4 linked regions of the Homo sapiens genome follow. The protein of the gene in region 4 interacts with the protein of the main gene of each other region in a pairwise test. Each region holds a gene or a part of one and is shown on either strand. Other genes may lie near its edges.

Region 1 (2,725 bases), on a different chromosome or scaffold from region 4:
GCTGCAGCCGCATCCCGGAAGCCGGCAGAAGGGCCTAAGGCTCTCTCCCGTCAGGGCGGAGCGCCCCATCCCCTTCCCAGCGCCCCCAGGATGGACGGCCGGTTCACTGACCTAGCTTGAGCCACGCGCCGACCAGGAGCGACAGCAGGGGCAGCAGCGGTAACCCATGCCGGGCCATCAGGACTGCCGCGCTGCGCCGCGTACACCCACGGCCCCGCTGCGCATGCGCCCTCATGCACCGCAGCGGCAGTCGACCCCTATGCACATGCGCAGGCTGCGCCACCACCCGCCCCGCACCCAATAGTTCAGCAGGGGGAAACTGACGGAGCGAGGCGGAGGACTGGCCACACCACCTTCAGGACCGCCCAGGGAATTAAGGAAAACCACGTTGAGGGTCCCGGCCGTTCCAGAGGCCCCTTCACTACTTTTCTGAACCTTTGGACAGTTTTCATTCCCCTTAAGATTGCTTTTGTGCGTCATACCATTGCAAGAACAGAAAGGAGGTTTCAACTTAACATTTATTGCACAACTCACTTCAGGCCACTGCTGACATCCCAAAACACAGCCTAGTAACACACAACTTCACCTTCAAGGACTGCAGAGATAGACCAACTATATATAAATAATCTCGTGGAAACGTAATTTGGGTGAGAAAAATATGACGCTAGAGACTTTGCGATGAATATTTTGCCTAAGTTCAGAAGCTTGAAAATACAGTTGGCCTACAATCTCAAATTTCACCCAATAACCGTGGCCCTTAGTCACCACACCTTCCATCATCTTTTTACCTCTGCCTGTTCTTGCCCTTTACAGTTGCAGCTCTCTCAACTCCCTTGCCTCTAGTTGACTCCTCTTCCCATTTCCTACAACTTTGTGGCGGGAGCATTTTAGCAAAGCCATTTCAAAGGCGTTCAAAGTCCAACTGATCCAATGCATTTACTCAGAAATTTATACCAACAGGGATGCTTTCAATATTTTAAATTACTTGAGCATTTATATTAGCATAAAAATTTTAAAACCAAATGCTTAACAATAGGGTAGTTGGATAATTTAACATACGTCCACATAAAATTAAACCATTAAAATTTGCTTTTCAAGAAATATTTAATAACAAGGTAAGTAACATATGCTTATCTAACATGGAATTTTATGTCACTGCTGCTAAAGCAAAACATCCTGTTCACTGGATAAAAGACCTGCTTTATGTGTATACACTTCAGTGCAATTTTTAAAAATACTATAATTTCAGAACTTCCAAATTTCAACAGATGCCAGTGTTCTCTCCTTTTTTCATATGGGAAAATTTCTTTCAAAATTATTTGAAGCTTGGACAAAAATTCCACAGCTGTAATCCTCAGGATCACTTTGCAGTCTTCAAGATTCAGATACAGAGGAAGCTTCAATTCAACCTTTCAGAGAAGACATTCCAGCTCGCATGATCTCATCAACCAAGAGAATGTTGGTGGCAATCACAGTGCTGAAAGGGGGACAAAAATAAGATGGCTCAGATGATTAGGAGCCCTAATTCGACTCAACTTCCCACTTCCAACCAAGCTGCACACATTACATCCAATTAAATTTCCCCCTTCCCCTCTACACATCAGAGGGCTAGTTCAGTTTCCATACTTCCAGCTGATCACATTATTCATGGGGGAAAGGAGCAACTAAACAGAGAACACCAAATGAAAAAAGTATGATTCTCTAACAGTTTAGTTTTCATTTTCCCAAACTTACCAGGAGTGAAGAAGCTGTTTCTTTACACAATAGTTATCCCATACGCCTACTTCTGCTGCCACCATTGGCTCACCTAAAAGGCAACCAAATCTTAAAATAAGTTCAGTCAGTAAGAACCAACAATATTGTGTGCAGCTTTGCTTATCACTGATGACTCATTTCCTCCAGTATTAACTATGAGAATTCAAAGCTTCTCTGTTAGCCCAATTTTCTACTCTAAACCATGACCCCCGTCCACAATATTTGATGAATGTCTGACTTATACTTAGAAGTCCTGAACACCCCTCTCTTCTTCTGGATACATTTCTGTTTACTCATACTGAAGTATAGCACTTCAACTATAATCTGACTAAAATGGACTGATCATTTCCCTCATTCCAGAAACCTTTTCTATTAATGTTGACAATAGGTCTTGCACATACTGCATGGAGGTACCTGTTATCTCCTACTTTGTACTTAATTTGTGTTGTTTTGTTACAGGAACCTAAGATCAGGGCTGTCACCATTTCACTAGATTTCTACATCCCCTTTTCTGGCATTAATTGCTATCTTTAGCTGGTTTTCACCCATGAATATAATCACCACATCTATTTTCTTATCATAGTACTTGATTAAAAACTGAGTAAGGCAAATGCAATATGAAAATCCTTCAACATTAATCTGAACCATCTACCACCACTCAACATCTCCAAAATTGTATCCCCAAATTACTCATGTCTACTCGTCCCTTAATTATACCTAGTCATTCCATTTTTTATTAATATCCTATTTTATCCCATTTTAGAACCCAGAGTTCCCTAACAGCACTGGTGTCAAATTGCAAAGCAAAACATTTTTAATCTTTCCTGGCTTCAACTCACACGTATTACATCTAGTTTTCCCTCTACAACAGTTGCATTCTCTTACCTGTGTTCAGGTCCACACCCACAAGCTGACCTGATTCTGAATGTTCTGCTTGAATTTTAACTAATGTTTCCTGAAGGTCAAAACC
Region 2 (4,281 bases), on a different chromosome or scaffold from region 4:
TACATATCTTGTTCCCTCCAGCCTCTACTATACTGCACTACTTAGAAAGCTCACTACTCTCTTCTAACATAAAGTGAAAATTCTACTTCAGACCTCCCTAGAAATGGGAGGATCTGTAGGATATGGCCCCATAAGGTACCCTGGCCAAGGAAATAGTGCCAGCCCTGCCTTAAGCTCTCAGTCTCAATGCTCTCTCTACCTCATCTATCAAAGCGTCTTCATACAGATGTGGGTATAAACCGGGACTGGTGTTACTGCTGTCGGCCAAAACACGCAGGACTCTCATCTTGGTGGTTTCAGCATAGGCTCGTGGACCCCACAGGAACTCATAGCATGGAGGATCACTGTTGCACACCTGCCGGTAAACCACGTACTTATCTTGCACCAAATCTTCAGTAATGATCTTCCGAGCATCCCCATAGATTGAATGCAGGATCCCATCATATATCCCCAACAGACCCAGGAACTCCCAGACCTCCTCTTCAGTGGCACAGTTGCCGTTCATGAAGATCACAACCAGGAGCGACATCAGGAGACCCGACTTCGGCAGCGCATTATCACCACTCAGAATTCCTTCACTGGGGAGGCCTAGCTTGCTGACAAGGGTGTAGGACTCGCCGCTGGAATCCATTTCTTTCAATTCAACGCCAAAGGCCACCACCAAATGTTGGGAGGTTCTGTTGAGGATCTGAGGGAAGTAGGGCTTGTACTCTCTGCGGACACACTTCAGCATGTCTGCCTTCAAAATGGACTCTTTCTTCTCAAACTTCTTCTGCAGGAATTGCGCCAACGTGCACGCCTTCTTCTTTACAGCATCTTTGCTTAAGCGCTTAAAAATGATGGCTTTCTGTGAGGCGCTTACACTTTCCTCATCTTCACCCTCGGCAGCCACATCATATTTTGAGCCTGAAACACCTGCATCAGGCGAGCCAGTGGGTGAAGCTCCCTGAGACTCCTGAGGAACGGAGACATCATGGGAAGTGCTTGGACTTTTCTCATCTTGGCCGTTGGCAGCCACATCATATTTTGAGCCTGAAACACCTGCATCAGGAGAGCCAGTGGGTGAAGCTCCCTGAGACTCCTGAGGAACGGAGGCATCACGGGAGGTGCTTGGACTTTTCTCATCTTGGCCGTTGGCAGCCACATCGGATTTTGAATATGAAACAACTGCATCAGGAGACCCAGTGGGTGACACTCCCTGAGACTCCTGAGGAATGGAGGCATCAGAAGACCTACGACAATCACCCAGACAAGCGCGAGAAGAGGATGAGGAAGAGTGGGACTCTTCCTGCTTCTCTGCAGTGGCCTGGGGACCCGTGAGACCCTGTGGCTGACCATTGGTCTCTTGGCGTTTCTCACAGGTACGGAGCTTACTCTTGTGACCCCGAGGCATGATGGCTGTGGCCTGTGACAGCAGGTAGGAGTGTGGGTAGGAAGACTAGGAAGGCTGGCACCTGGATGGGAGAGAGTGACGTCACGTCAATATCTTCAGCAGAGAGCGACCATCTTGGCTTTAACTAGGGCCCCTTCTGCAGGTTTCCGCAGAACAGCTGCTCTAGGAACCCACAGGACTCCTTTTCTCCTGGTCAGTTTGTCTCCTTCAAACTCAGGAGGAAGTTAGAGTATTAGACTATAGCATGACAGCCCATTTTGGGGCTTACTGAGGTGACAGCAGGGGCTGGCAGTGGGGGCCCCTCTGTTCAGGGGTTGGATCCTCTCTGTTTACATTCAGGATCATCATTAAAACTGGAAACCATCATTCTCAGCAAACTATCGCAAGGACAAAAAACCAAACACCGCATGTTCTCACTCATAGGTGGGAAGTTAACAGTGAGAACACATGGACACAGGAAGGGGAACATCACACTCCGAGGACTGTTGTGGGGTGGGGGGAGGGGGGAGGGATAGCATTAGGAGATATACCTAGTGCTAAATGACGAGTTAATGGGTGCAGCACACCAGCATGGCACATGTATACATATGTAACAAACCTGCACATTGTGCACATGTACCCTAAAACTTAAAGTATAATAAAAAAAAAATTGTTGACAAGACCCAGAGGCCCATTTCCTTGTGCCACTCTGAAATTGACAGTAGGAATTTTAACCCGGAGGAAATAAGGAAGCACTTCTGCCCAACACTTCATTCCGGGGACACCCAGACCACCTAGGGCTGACAACAGCGGAGGCATTTGAGTGCTCTTCCAGTTATAGTGAGAATGCTCCTCACAGTAATTAGACTCCTCACCCTGACTCTTCCCACAACCTGGAAATCACCCTCACTGACCTGCTGCCATCTCCTTACAACCAGGGGCCTACCTCTCTGACTCTCACAGGGACAAAGTGAGAATGCACCTCAGTCTCTAGAGACCTGCCCGGACCCCCAGGCTAACGTCAAGGGCAGAGTTCGGTGCAACCCGTTACGGGACATGGAATCCCCTCCCTCAATTCTAAGGAGGGTCCTCTTAACTATGTAGGGCCTGAGATTTCTCCCTCTACTGACCTGGGTCCACAAGCCTTGGACCGAGGCCTTCATGTTCTTCAACACGACGGAAAAAAATGAATGGACTTTGGGCCTAACAGCCATGTTTGGGGACTCCTCAGGGACCAGGTCGGGGCAGGTTGGGGCAGGGCTCTGTGGAGCCGCCTTTCTTCGGGGGAAGGGGGTTGAAGTTGTCGGGGAATGCCCCCCGTTCTAGGTCAGGATACCCACCAAGACAGCTGAGAAGATCTGGGACGCCTCCTTCCGCTGACGTGACAGCACTTTTCAGGCTCAGGCGACCGGCTCAGACCCCTTTATTAGGTGGAAGTCAAGAGGAACCACTTCCGGCCACGCCCACCTGGCGCTCCCTGCGTAACAGTAGCTGCAGGGCTCTGTTACTCCCCCTTGTGTTCTGTGGGTGCAGCAGATTCCAGGGAACTCACGTAAAGTTCTTTCAGGGGCTCTTCGCGGACCCTTGGACTTCTCTATCTGTTGAGCTGAATCAGTCAACCGGAGATAGAGGCTCTCATTCCCTGAGAGTCCAGAGTTGGAAGTAAGGTGCAGCCTGAGCTCGGGAGCCATGCCGGGACCTTCCAAGACTGACAGTAGGGGTGGAGCTCTGTGAGACCCCCTTTTTGGAATGGACTTTGCCCTCAGCCCTCACTCAGTGTCGTCGCTTCATTCTTGCCATGTCCCCTCTACTGACTTGAGGACACCCTCTCAGACTAGACTTCAACTTCCTGAGACTCCTCATGTGCAATTCAGTTACACCTCACCTGGCCACTACTGCCTGGGGCCTCCTAAACCTGGCTGCTGCTATTAAGTTGTGATGCAAGATCGGGGAATGAAGGGAGATTTGGGGGGCACTCTTGTCTCTTCTGATATGTGGAGCCCCTCAGTCCTCACTCAGGGTCCTCACATTGACTGCTGGCAGGGTCTCAGTTTTCTCCATTTTCTGATGTAAATTCATCCCCTTCCTCTGACTAGATCCTGTAAAATTCATAAGGAGAAAGTGAGAAGACTTCTTAGCCTGATAGCTATGTCTGGGACTTCTCTCTTGGCTGACATCAGTGTCTGTATTCAACACCTTCATGAATGAATTTCTACCATTATCTTGTGTGACTCACTGCAATATTTGCTATCCTAATTTAGTCCATTCTTTATATTATATTAAAATAATACGAATTTAAAGGCCAGTCCACTTCCACTAAAGAAGTTTCAGGTAGTTATTAGCACAGTGTCTGGATTCATACTTCTTCAGCCTACCCAGATGTTTTTGCTGTGGCAATATTACCCCATGGAACTGGCACATAGGGTCCAAGTTTCTGACTGAATTTCCTTTAGTGAAGCAGAAAAAAAAATGCATTGTCCAATGGCACAGTGAAAGAAGCAAAGACCAAAGTTTTAAAGCTTTTCCTCTAGCCAATTCCGTTATCTGCGTCTGTTGTAGGCCACAGACCTGTCTCTACTTCAGCTCATGCCCCTACCTGCCCACACACCCATTCTTGTTCAATACAAACTGACCATCTCTCAAGGTTCGCATTTTTGTTGTTTTGCTGTTGTTAATACTGCTTTTTTTTTAAAAAAAAATTCTTCCTTTAACTTTTCTATGGTTGAGTTTGGTCATGGGAAAGAACCACCCGGGTTTGGTTGTCATCTTCACAGCTATGGCTAAGGCAATGAATCTGTAAAAAATTTAAGGAGAATCAATAACTTTACAATATCTCCTCCACAGTAAATAAACATAGTACACTGCTTTATTGGAGATTTATTTTTCCTAAGTCTTTCAGTAAATTTTTA
Region 3 (4,123 bases), on a different chromosome or scaffold from region 4:
ATTTTTTGTATTTTTAGTAGAGATGGGGTTTCACCGTGTTAGCTAGGATGGTCTCGATCTCCTGACCTCGTGATCTGCCCGCCTCGGCCTCCCAAAGTGCTGGGATTACAGGTGTGAGCCACCACGCCCAGCCCCCAAACTATTCTTAAACTTAAATATCAGATTAAAAAATCATTCAACTGAAATTTCAGAATAGCTAATAACTTATCATGATATGGCCAGGTGCGGTGGCCCACGCCTGAAATCCTAGCACTTCGGGTAGTCGAGGCAGGCAGACCACTTGAGATCAGGAGTTCAAAACCAGCCTGGCCAACATGGTGAAACCTCGTCTCTACTAAAAATACAAAAAAAAAGCTGGGCATGGTGGCATGTGCCTGTAATCCCAGTTACCAGAGAGGCTGAGGCAGGAGAATTGCTGGAACCCAGGAGGCAGAGGCTGCAGGGAGCCGAGATCACGCCCCTGTACTCCAGCCTGGGCAACAGAGCGAGATTCCGTCTCAAAAAAAAACAAAAACAAAACCAACTTATCATAATACAGACATTTAGGACATTTATGCCAATGGGGTATTTCCAACAGTCTAAATAAAGGGGAGGAGGGTATGGAACAAAATTTTCAAGAAAACTCAAATTCACCTGAAAAAGCTCATAACTCTAGATAAAGTATTAGGAGTCACCACAAAAGCAAAACAGTAATATATCGTAACTCTAGTCAACCAGGGCCTAAGCTATAACTGAAAAAAAATTAAAGCACGAGCCGTTTTTCTTAAAGGCTCAAATCTTCTAAGTACAGTTTTTAAAAATTTTGGGAAATTGGGGGAGGGGGATGTAGACTGTAAAAGAACTATTTTCACATAAGTTTAATCTAAGTATCTTAAGTTTCTAATAGAAGAATTAATACAAGGCTGGGCACAGTGGCTCATGTCTGTAACGTAATCCAACCAGGCTTTGAGAGGCCACTGTGTTTACTGGGTAACACAGTGAGACCCCACCTCTACGAAAAATAAAAAAAATTAGCCAGGTGTGGCAGAGCGTGCCTGTAGTCCCAGCTACTTGGGACGTGGGAGGCTGAGGAAAGATGATCGCTTGAGCCCAGGAGGTCCAGGCTGCAGTGAGGTATAATCATGCCACTGCATCCAGCCTGGGCAACAGAGGGAGACCCTGTCTCAAAAAAATAAGTAACTCTAAATTTAAAGCAGCAAGATATTTACAATTTGCAATGATTGATCTGATTTCGCTAAGCAACCCAAACATACATTTTCACTCTTTATCTAAAACGTTTTAAAAATAAGGTTCTTACCAAATCCTTTGTTGAAAATATCTCTGGCAGCTTTGCCAAGGTCAGCATATGATGGAGGAATACACATTGCTGGTAGAAAAAAAACATTCCAGTGTTAATGTCTCTATTCTCCCACCTTCTATCCAAGAACAAGAGCATGACCCACTGCTGATATTAAAATTCAAGCAATCCCATTTGTTGGAATGTTTTTTATGCGGTCAGGAGCTACAATAGAACTATAACGACCCATAAAGGAGATACCACCAACGAATTATTTCTAAAACAGATAACCATGATTATACAAACTTGGGGAATTCGTTTCAAAACGGAAAAACAGTCTATTACCTACAGCCTCACTTCCTAGGACTGGACAAGTACAAAGAATCAAACAAGTATTTGTGTGTATGGATATTTATGTATCTGCCAAAATTCACTGAGATGAGCTGATTTAACTAAATTAGATAAAACCGAAACCTAAGACTAGGCCCTTTACCCTGATACGTCCTTTAATATCTTCGCTGAGGGGAAAACCAACACCCTGGAGTGGGAAGAGAATTTAATACTGGGAATTTAAATATTGAAACTTGGAAAAAATACTGCCATGTGTGTTTCACTCAAATGTCTACATCAACTAAATATCAAATAGCGCTTCAAACTTACTAATGTGACTCTCAAGTCCTCGGCCAATGCTGTGCTGCTTAAGGGCAGGCAATCTGAGCTCATTACACCAGCTCATTCATTCCACAAAGCACGTCCACGCCCTTAGGAGCACAAGTAATGACCTTGCGCTCTCACAAGAGGGACTGCTACTTCCTCTAGAAAAGTGATTGATCCGATCCTCCAAAGGCAGAATCCCCAATTAACAACTTTTTACTTCTATACGTCAAAGACATGTACAAAGGCTGAAAAGTCCATGCGGCCACAGACCAACTCCCCGGGCCTTGTTCCCCATTTGAAATCCAGCAGCCCAGCCCCTCCTCCGCAGAGGAGGTGGTCAGACGGTGGGGCGACCACCAAAAGCAGCCGAATTTCCAAGTTCTTGGAAAGATAGGGGGAAACAAACTGGGTTTCTGGTCGACAGGCTTCGACTCTCCGCCGCCCCATCCCGCAGAGATCCCAGCTTTACTTACGACGCGCGCAAGTCTGTCCGTGGGTCGCCATGGCGAGGCCGCGGGAAGAGGGGAATCTGCGGGAGGGACAAGAAGTGCGGTAAGCTGGGGTCAAAGGGCCAAAGGGAGATCCCGGGCAGAGAGGGGCGAGGGGCCGCGGGGCAGCGCGGCCATCTTAGGAAGCCAGGGCCGACTCCGAGTCCGGCGCGGGCCTCCGGCTTGGCCGCCGCGGCCTAGGCCCCTGGGTCGGCGTGAGGCGGGCGCGGCGGTACCTGGTGGTGTCCTGAGGGGGGCCGCCGCCACCGCTCCGCTAGCTGCTGAAGCCGCTTGGCACGCTCGCGGTCGGGCTGCAGCTCCAGCAGCTGGAGGGCGAAGTGAAGGAGACACCGTTCCGCCCGCCGCAACCCTGTCCTCTCCCAGACAGGACCCCGCCGCTGCCCCCGGGGCTGTCCGCCGCGCCTGTCCCTGCAGCGCAGCCCGCTGCCAACTCCAACCTGCTCCAGAGCGGCCACGTGGACCGACAGCGCCCCGGTCCTGCAGGTGGGCTGCCTCCGTCCGTCGGTGGGGATCCGGAAGGCAGAAGCTGCTGGGCCTTGGATCAGGCAGCTATCCGGGCAGCCTCAGAGGCGAGGGGGCGGGGAACGGCGGAGGCAGCGCGCTGGGGACCGCCTGGGAGGGGGATGGGGCGGAGGCCCCGCGCGAACGCGTCACGGACGGGGCGGGGCGTCGGCGCGTGGCCGGGGCGATAGGGCGCGGCTGCGCACCAGGGTCACGTAGATCTCTCCTACTCCCCTTACGCGCTGGTGCGGGTTCCCCCCCGAAACAAAGCCCTGCATAGGGTGCCTGCGGGGAGTCAGCTGAGCGTTACCCACGTCCATCCTAAGCTAGCGCAGCCTGCGCTTCTGAGGGACCGCTTCTCTTTCCCAGCCCAGGGAGAACGAGTGGGACACAGGGGCGCCACCTCCAGCCCCTCGCGCTCTTCTGCCCTCTTTTCCCACCTTGGTGTGACTGCCTTGCTGTGCTGGGTTGTGTGCCTGAGAGGCTTTTTGGGACTGCCTCTCCCTGAACAAATGTGAGCGGGTCCTAGCGTGCCCCACCCATTTCCACGCCGCCTTACGCTTTCTCTTCCGCGGCTCCTCCCCACTCAGGCATGGCACTGCTTCACACACGCACGGAGCCGGAGCTTGGCGAGGCAAGCCTGCTCCGGGCCCAACCTCCTCTGGATTATGGGCCTGGAGAAAATGTGGAATCATGCTGAGCAGGCGTTAGAATGCCGCACCCGAGTTCCCCGGGTGTGCAGGAAGGGTGACAGAGCTATTAGATAAAATGTATATGGGAGACCGTTAGTTTAGACTGACCTCCTGCATTAGGCCCATCAGACCAAACCAAAATGGGGTTACTCATGCTGAAGTTTCACACTACCACGCCAAAGCTAGGATCTTTATCTGACCTTCCAAGAAATCAGGAGAGAAACAGATGCTAGCCAGATCCCCAAACAGGCTGGGCGCGGTGGCTCACACCTGTAATACCAGCACTTTTGGATGCCGAGGTGGGCGGATCGCCTGAGCTCAGGAGTTCCGGACCAGCCTAGGCATAGTAATACCCTGCCTCTACCAAAAAAAAAAAAAAAAAAAAAAAAAATAGCCGGGCGTGGTGGCTGGCGCCTGTAGTCCCAGCTAATTGGGAGGCTGAGGAGGGAGGATCGCTTGAGCCTGGGAGGTTGAGGCTGTAGTAAGCT
Region 4 (2,762 bases):
ACAACAAAAAAAGACTCAACCAACCTACCTAGAGGTCCGGGGCCTGACCAGGGCCTCTGCCAAGCTGGCTTGACATAGAAGGGGAAGAATCAGCTGTCCACTGGGAAAGCCCCTCTCCCACCTATCATCTAGTGCCTGTTGTCCCTTTAAGGGTAAAATCACTTGCATTTTGGTGAAACAGGAAAAAAGAAACTATTATCATGAAAATTACTGTCTAAAACCACAACAAATCCTATCATAGTAGGAAGCGTTTGTTCCCAGGCCCTCCATACACAATTAAAAAGCAAGTAGGGACTAGATTACCTCTTCTCATGTAATTCCCACAGCAATTGTGTGAAATACAGAAGAAATGGGGGCTCCGCAAGTATAGAAACACCTGTCCCTGAAAGGCAAGTCAGGACTGAAATTCAGCCCATGCCCTGCTCAGCAAGCCACCTGCCCCAAGGAAGGAGTGTCTTTTGCTAATTCTCACAAAGGTGCCGTATGGATTAGCAATAGCCTTTTTTTTTTAATTTTTGCTTTATTTGAATATAATTTTCTCATCAATTTTGCTTGCATAAATACAGTTTGTTGCTTGTTCTGGTTTAGTCTAATAGTAAGTTGGAGAAGTCCTGGAGAATGGGCATCCTGGTGGGGTGGCAGAATGGGGTTCTCGCTTCAGCAGATGCAGCCCCCCAAACACAGCACTCCATGGATGAGGACTCAAAAGATGAATGTCATTTTCTGCCCCTGTGTCTCAGAGATGCCCTGAGGCTGTCTGACAAGGTGAGCTGTTCCACACAAAAAACAAAGAATTAATCACACCTTAGTCCAGCCTGAGTTGGGGCCAGTCTATTGCCTGGGTCCTGAGATGTGCTGCCTCAAATGTCTTCACTGGACGTGGTCATGCCTGAGACCAGAATGGAATAAAACAATCCATTTGAATACAGCGATGGATGGTCAGAGATGTCCACACACATCTCTGCTCACCCTCACCTTCCTGCAAACTCCATTCATTTATTTATGGGGAAATTTGATGTTTCCCTCAAATGTCCTTTCCCTCTCAGAGAATAATTTTGTTTCCCCGTCATCAGATAGCACTGAGAAAGGGGCCAGAGTTGGGCCTCTCTGGGGCTGTCCCTGCAGTACTCCTGGGACCCTTAAGCCTCGGTCTTGGGTTCCTTCATGGATTTGACAAATTCCTTGACTTCTTCTTCCAAGGCCTTGTTCCTCTTCTCAACATCCTCCCGGGAGCGCTCCATGTTGCGGAGGCTGATCTCTAGGGCTGCAGACTTCTTCTTTTCCTTCTCCAGTTCTTCATTGAGCCTCACCACTTTAGCCCAAACGTCATAATTTTCCTTCTCAAGGCTACAAGGAAGGAAAGAAAAGAATGAAAGAATGTGGCATTCATTCTAGACTCTTCCTTCCCCCTTGCTCACAACCTGCTGCTCATTTTCCTTTCAAATCACAAGACCCTTATCCAACCTCTCAGCTATGTCCCTCTTCCCACATGAAGATGTCCCAGAAAACCTGAATCCCCACAGTACTTCTGAGCCCCTCATTTGTCATTTTTTTTTGGATGGAGTCTCGCTCTGTTGCCCAGGCTGGATGGAGTGCAGTGACGCGATCTCGGCTCACTGCAAGCTCCGCCTCCCAGGTTCACACCATTCTCCTTCCTCAGCCTCCCTAGTAGCTGGGACTGCAGATGCCCGCCACCATACCCAGCTAATTTTTTCTTTTTTTTTGTATTTTTAGTAGAGACAGGGTTTCACCATGTTAGCCAGGATGGTCTTGATCTCCTGACCTCGTGATCCGCCTGCCTTGGCCTCCCAAAGTGCTGAGATTACAGGCATGAACCACCACACCCAGCCCCCTCATTTGTCATTTAACACCATCTTGTGACATCTATTGTGTTTTTTCTCATGTCGTTTAATGTTTTGTATCTTCAACCGGATAACAAAGTCTTTGAAAGGAGGGACCAGTTCTAACAGATCTATATATTCACTCCCACAGCACCTTGTATCAGTCCTGGAAGCCCCATCCATATTTCAAATTTCTCACACCTCTGTGCTCATGAGTGCCTCCTCATCCTGTGTCAATGGAGAGCATAGATCAGCACCCTTTCTTATTAAGGATCTCCTGGGGACCAAGATTTGGAGAAACAGAGGGAACTGCCCTTTGGGGAGCTGTGGTCCTGGCAGTCTCACCCTCACTTCTGAATCCCATGCCAGGTGAAAAATCTGTGGGATTCCTGAATTGCTAGGATTTTAATCGTTACTGGCCCAAATCCTAATGTAGTGCCAGGTGGCCCCCTGCCAGGCTGTGCTGAATTAACCCTTAGGAATGAGTGTACACATGCCGATTGTGTGACTGGAAATTTGTTTCAGAATTTCATTCTGTAGAGTGTGCCTCCCTTCTCCCCAAATGGCCTGCCCATTTGCACAAGGGAGACTTGAGCTCCCATGTGAGCCCAAAACTTGGGTTCTATCTTCAAGGGCCTTGGCCTATTCTGTGGGTAACAATCCATCTTCAGAACTTTGCTTACCCCCACCTATCTCTTCTTAAAGCTAAATTGATCTCATTCCATCTTTTTTTTTTCCTTTTGTTTTTTTTGAGACGGAGTCTCGCTCTGTTGCCCAGGCTGGAGTGCAGTGGCATGATCTCGGCTCACTGCAAGCTCCGCCTCCCAGGTTCACACCATTCTCCTGCCTCAGCCTCCTGAGTAGCTGGGACTACAGGCACCCACCATCATGCCTGGCTAATGTTTTATATTTTTAGGAGAG

Evidence for each region.
Region 1: the proteins of ARHGAP25 (region 4) and CCT6A interact in binary tests that used the Homo sapiens proteins (3 or more experiments, as listed by UniProt).
Region 2: the proteins of ARHGAP25 (region 4) and MAGEB6 interact in binary tests that used the Homo sapiens proteins (3 or more experiments, as listed by UniProt).
Region 3: the proteins of ARHGAP25 (region 4) and VDAC2 interact in binary tests that used the Homo sapiens proteins (3 or more experiments, as listed by UniProt).

Annotation. Positions count from the first base shown.
Region 1 is NC_000007.14:56,061,765-56,064,489, reverse strand, and holds the end of CCT6A (T-complex protein 1 subunit zeta), read right to left. Parts: coding exon 2,641-2,725; intron 1,808-2,640; coding exon 1,735-1,807; intron 1,478-1,734; coding exon 1,405-1,477; 3' UTR 501-1,404; downstream 1-500. Other genes in the region: SUMF2 (inactive C-alpha-formylglycine-generating enzyme 2 isoform i precursor), read right to left, coding at 112-178. UniProt on the Homo sapiens protein: Component of the chaperonin-containing T-complex (TRiC), a molecular chaperone complex that assists the folding of actin, tubulin and other proteins upon ATP hydrolysis.
Region 2 is NC_000023.11:26,190,959-26,195,239, reverse strand, and holds the start of MAGEB6 (melanoma-associated antigen B6), read right to left. Parts: upstream 2,801-4,281; 5' UTR 2,713-2,800; intron 1,455-2,712; 5' UTR 1,394-1,454; coding exon 170-1,393; 3' UTR 1-169.
Region 3 is NC_000010.11:75,209,473-75,213,595, reverse strand, and holds the start of VDAC2 (non-selective voltage-gated ion channel VDAC2), read right to left. Parts: upstream 2,801-4,123; 5' UTR 2,658-2,800; intron 2,463-2,657; 5' UTR 2,438-2,462; coding exon 2,407-2,437; intron 2,115-2,406; exon of another isoform or gene 2,013-2,114; coding exon of another isoform or gene 1,937-2,012; intron 1,367-1,936; coding exon 1,298-1,366; intron 1-1,297. UniProt on the Homo sapiens protein: Non-selective voltage-gated ion channel that mediates the transport of anions and cations through the mitochondrion outer membrane and plasma membrane.
Region 4 is NC_000002.12:68,824,572-68,827,333, reverse strand, and holds the end of ARHGAP25 (rho GTPase-activating protein 25), read right to left. Parts: intron 1,348-2,762; coding exon 1,140-1,347; 3' UTR 501-1,139; downstream 1-500. UniProt on the Homo sapiens protein: GTPase activator for the Rho-type GTPases by converting them to an inactive GDP-bound state.